2 separate regions of the Homo sapiens genome follow, and region 2 is linked to region 1. The links come from fine-mapping of genetic effects on gene expression. Tissue or cell type: cerebellum. Region 1 holds a variant in brackets; the other region holds the start of a gene. All regions are shown on one strand. Distances are between the middles of the regions.

What was found. PIP is the estimated chance that this variant, and not a neighbour inherited with it, causes the effect.
Region 2: ITGA11 starts here. The variant in region 1 is fine-mapped to the expression of ITGA11 in cerebellum (GTEx, PIP above 0.99). The same link has a PIP of 0.9 or more in cerebellar hemisphere.

The regions. Positions count from the first base shown.
Region 1 is chr15:68,314,473-68,317,224 of GRCh38, forward strand. It overlaps ITGA11 (integrin subunit alpha 11), which reads right to left. Exons shown (of 30, transcript NM_001004439.2): 22 at 1,179-1,255. Among named protein-coding and RNA genes, the nearest start is that of FEM1B, 38 kb to the left of the region's middle. RefSeq lists an enhancer at 592-1,458. The variant C/T (reference allele first, on the strand shown) is at 1,492.
Region 2 is chr15:68,430,806-68,433,305 of GRCh38, forward strand. ITGA11 (integrin subunit alpha 11) reads right to left here and starts at 1,358. Exons shown (of 30, transcript NM_001004439.2): 1 at 1,210-1,358. The coding sequence starts at 1,261. RefSeq lists an enhancer at 1-518.

The DNA.
Region 1 (2,752 bases):
AATGTACAGTTCTTGCTTGTTATATAGACTGAGTTTGATTCCCTTTGGAAGCCTTACCCCAGGATAGGGGTTTGGTTAGAAAAGGGAGACCCAACACACACAGATGTGCCTCCAGAGCCCCCTCCTACACACACCTAATTCTCAGACACCCCCCACAGCTGTGCCAGAGACACTGCTCTGCAAGCGCGCTCATTTCTCCTGTGAAGACGGGACTGGGCTTTCTTAGAGCAGGGCAGAGAGCAAGGGAGGCCTTGCCAAGTTTGCCACGTGGTGTGTGAGAATTCTACCAGGATGCACAATTCATTTAACTGTAGCTGGGACGCGAGCACGTGTCGGGTATGAGTCCCCAGCGCTTATGTGACCTCTGACCTGCACGTGTGTGTGCTGGAATGTTAGTGTTCGGTTTGCCTGGGGTATTTATTTCTTAGCTAAGGATTTTTGCCATTTATAAGGCTCCAGAGTGGACACAATCCCTCTGTCCTTCCCCACACAGAGGTAATTCTGCAAAAAAGAGAAGTGTATTTACTACTGACACAAAGTGATTCATGGGGTCAACACATAGCAAGCTACCTCTGAGAGGCCTGGGAGACAGACAGACAGATAGACAGGAAGACCCACATAGAGTAAGAAAAGGCCTCTTAAAAATAGAAAAAGGGGAGAGAGGTGACTAGGACAGGAAGAGCCCTGGATGGGGAATAGGACGAGTAGTGTTCAGCTTCCAGCTGCACAATTTACTGCTGTGTGTCCCTGGGAAATTCACTCACCCTCTCTGAGCCTCTCTTTTCTTAACTTGGAAGATGGTGTGTGGAATAACCCCTGCTTTGATGATCTTAAGGGGCCTCTGTGAGGACTGAGATTTTTGCCTGTACAATGCTTTATAACCATAGGGTTTGTGAATTACTGCTGTATACAGGGCTGTCTAAAAGTAAAGGGCTGACATTATTATTTATCATCCAAAGAATGAAGAGTGGTGGCAACACAGGGGGCAGCAGGTTGGCCCACACCTGCAACGGATGCCGGCCCACCTCCCCACCCCACTGCCTCCACTCAAGGTTGGGGCAGTGGGGGACAGGGCGTGGGGCAGCGGACTCAGTGTCGGGAGGAGCAGTTGCTAGCAGCCAGAGAGCTGGGCCCCGGAATAGCAAGCTTTGGGGAGAAGGAGCAGGCACGGCCCTGACCTGCCTGCAGCGAGCTCGATCTCCAGGTGGTGTAGGAAGATGGATTTGCTGAACTCAAAATCAAGACGGAAAGCCACCTGCAAGGAAGCAGTCGCATGTCTGGGCATTGCTGGGACCAGCCCCGCCCACTCCCCACAGCCCACTCCCCACAGCCCCCTGCTGGCTTGGGGAGAGGGAGCTTGCTGGGGGTTGGGGAGCTGCTGGCTGGGAACAGGCTGGGAAAGGGAGGACCAGGTGCTACAGAACATGAGCTGAGCTTCAGGGCTGCTGTGGGGACACAGCCAAAGACAACAGCTCCCACAATGGGGTTTCT[C/T]GGGGCTGAGCCAGCCCCCCTCCCTCTTCCTCTTCTTTTGTTTTTAGCAAAAGGCAACCAGAAAGCAGCAAGTCCAGCTCCAGACTCTGTCTGCAGGGTTTTTAGGGTAGGGGTCCTTGATGGCAGGAAGGGCCGATGGCCATCGCCATGCACCACAGGATGTGGGGGCCAGAAACGTTTGGTAGGACTGCCTTGTCCACCTCTTCTTTGTGTGTGGCAGGGAGGAGATGGCCCAGAGAGGGATGAGGGCCAGTGGCCACCCAGCAGGCCAACAAGGCATCCGCCCCTTGTCTGGCAGCGCTTCTGCCACACTGCTGACCTGGGCCCTGATACTCCCCTTGCCCTTCGCCCCGCGGTGGGGAAACATGCGACCCTCCTCGCCTCCTCCCTGCCCCACCTGGGGGCATTACTGAGGCTTTGCACAGACCCCTGATGCGCTCCCTGGTCTCACCCTCACGAGGTTTCCCAGGAGACCTCAGCGGCCCCTTCTCTGCAGGAGTGGCTGGGCGTGGGTGGGGAAGCCTGGGCTATGTCCTGCTCCATCCCCACTCCAGAGCTCCTGGGTTTGTCGGTGCCTCAACCCAGAAACCACACCTTTGACTTATATCTCACCAGGGAGGTGCTTTGCTAAGGAGCCCTCATCCCCACTCCCATTTCTTTCTCTTTCCCCAGCTGTGCAGACCCTGCTCCTGGGAGCACTGCTGCCGCCTACTGGCTCCTGCCACAGCTCCTCTCTGATTCCCAAGTCCACGCAGCTTGGCCTCAATTAGGTCTCCTACTCCAGAACCTTCTATGGCTGCCTGCTGCCCAGGGCTGATGTCCAAACACTCCCTGCAATCTGGCGTCTCCCTCCCTTTCCCAGCTACTTTGCTTCTCCCTTCACATACCCACCCTCTATTCACATGAGCTTTTAAGCACAGTTGGGTGGTAGGTACTCACGAAATGGTAGTTTCTCTCCCCATCCCTCCTCATACACAGCACAGTGGCAGAGGCCAGAAATTTGAAAAACTTGTGAGGCTGCAGAACAGTGGGACTGGCTAAGGGCAGGTGGCAGACTAGTGGCTGGGAGTGGTAGGAATTCTCTCTGAGTTAAAGGATGGGCTGCTAGCATGGGGATGGCTGGCTCATTTGGTCACTTGAATGTAATTTTGTGGGAGAAAAGACAAATAAAAGCCACCTCAGGCCTCCCATCCCTCCCTGGTCTTCTGTGTTCACTCTTGTTGCTCTTGCCGCCCTCCCCAAACTACCTGTGCCTCCCAGT
Region 2 (2,500 bases), 120 kb after region 1:
CAGAGGCCCTTTCAACCATGGGCCCTCTGAGAAGCTCCTCTGTAGGCCGACAGGAGGGTGGACTTGCTTCGCGTGGTACCCGGGGACTGGGGCAAGCGGCTGCGGGATAGGGGTCTCCACCTGAGCTCCCTGAGGGCACCTCTCCCACTACCACCGCATCTGACCCCCACTACTGGCCCCAGCTCGGGCCTGGAGCCCACGCAGAAGGGGAGGCAAGGTTGAGCGCCCACACCCGGCCAGTAACCGAGGCGCTGGCCCTTGCCGGAGCACTTGGCCGTCTTCCGCAGAACAGCATCACTGGCAGCCGCCCCGCGTGGAGGGTGGAGCCGGGGAGCCCGGTGTGGGACGGCCGGGGCCAGGGTACCCTAGGGCGGAGAGCTCAGGGCTGGCTTCCCGCTCCCAGCCGCGCGCCCCTCGGGCCGGAGGTTCCTGCCGCGCCCCGACACCTGGAGTGCATTAGGCGGCGGCGCGCGTCTAGGCGACGGCGGCTTTCCCCAGATTATTGAATAATTGCATAATTCCGAGCGCGGGTTGGGAGGCAATGCCGGGTCCCTACCCCGGGTGTCAGGTAACGTTTCGGGGGTCCTGCGCTGCGCGACTGTGTCCCGCCGCTGCTGGCCGGGCAGACGAGAGCTAGCCCCCGCCTACCGGCCATCGCCCCGGGGCTTTGCTCTGTCTTTGGCCGGAGGCACTCTGCGCAGCCCTCACCCCCACCCTTCAGCCCTCCGGGGCCGCCGCGCCCGGCTCTCCAAACTTTGAGATGCTTCCCCGGAGCCAGGCAGGAGGGCAGCCAGGGCACACTCTCTTGGCGCTGATTCCCTTCCCCAGCCGGGGCCGTGCGCCCTCGGCGCTCCCGGGACACCCGAGTGCCCCTGGCAGCCGTGCGGGAACCCCGGCATGGGCCTTGGAGGCACCTAAGGCGCCCAGGAGGGCCACCAGATCTGGGAGCTTTTCAACTCAAGCCTCTTCAACTCTTCCCAAACACACCAAAGAGTCCCGGCTTTCAATAGCCTTCGCACCTCCCTCTTTAGCGAAACTTGACTGAACCGCTAGACTGGGGCCAGTCCCTGGGGGACCCACGTCCCCAAGAGCAGCTGAGGTCTGACCCTGGGAGGAGGGTCGCGTCCCGATCCTGGCCGCTGGATCCAAGCCCCGAGGGCCCAGGGAGGGACTCCGAGAGGCAAGGGGAGGCAGAGGGTGGGCACCTACCTGGCCACAGGCTGAGCGCCCAGGCCACCACCAGGCCCCTGGGCAGGTCCATGGCCCGCGGCACGGCGGCTGGGTCCGGTGTGCAGCGGCGGCGGGGGGCGGCAAGCCAGAGCGGCAGCCTCCTCGGCGCGGCGCCTGCAGCCTGCACTGCGCGGGGCGCCGGGCTCCCTGACAGCTGCGGCTCATTCAGAGGAAGTGGGAGGGCTCGAGCGGAGGGGAGGGGCGCCGGACACCACTCCGGCTCGGGCTCTGGGCCAGTCTCGGCCGCTCTGCCACCTGGGCAGGCGGCGCGCTGCCTCGACGCGCCTGTGCAGCGCTCCTTCTCCGCCAACCCCACGTCAGCCTCTGGAGAAAACTCCAGAGAACCGCTCCTGGGAACCCCCTCACCAGTGTAGCACCGCACCGCCTCAGTCAGATTCTGTTCAGGAAAAGTGGTTTTTATTCCCATTTCCCAGTGAAAAGAGATTCACAAAACTCAGAGGGTACCCAAGCTGGCTCAGGAACACCTGCTGGAACGCAGGTCTCCCTTGGCCAAGTGAGTGGATGTCCCTCAAAGGTCCATTCTAAGACATCCCCGTGTCTCCCTGCACCCTGCGGCTTGAATTGTAGAGGCTAGTGTTTCTTCTGACCCTGGAATACATGCAGATTCGCCTCCACTGCCACTCCCTGAGCCTCCACACCTGAGGCATTCCAAAGCACCCAGGGACACCGTGCACCCCCTCTTAACCTAACGTGAAGCTCTTCTTTGTAACCCTGCCACCTTCTTTCCCTCTTCTAATCACTGGTAGTTAAATTCAATGCACATTTATCTCAAGAGCTTTAAATCCAGGCCCCGGACCTCCACCGCGCTTGTGGAGGCTTTTCCAGCAATGGAGGAAGCCGAGGCAGAGGGTAGGAAGGCCAAGATGCAGGGAAAGCCACAGCAGAGCGCCCTTCCCCCACTTTCTCAGGAAAGGCTTCCTTCACCCCCTCTTCCCGTCCCCACCAGGTTGAGTCCCAGACACATGCTGATATTCCCCAGCCCGCTCTCCCTCATTTCTCTTCATTGTGCTTAGTAGAGAAGCAAGGCATCAATTGGTGTGATCATTTAACTTTTCTCTCCTGTGCAGACTGAAAACACCATCAGGGTAGAAATCTCTGGTTCACAATGGAGTACTCAGCCCCTAACACCCAGGAACAAAGTAGGTGGGCGGGTGGATGGATGGGTGAGTACAGGTGGTGTGTGGGTGCACAAAGGATAGAGTTTTCTATCTGGGAGGTATTGGAAGGGCTTCCCAGAGGAGGTGATGTT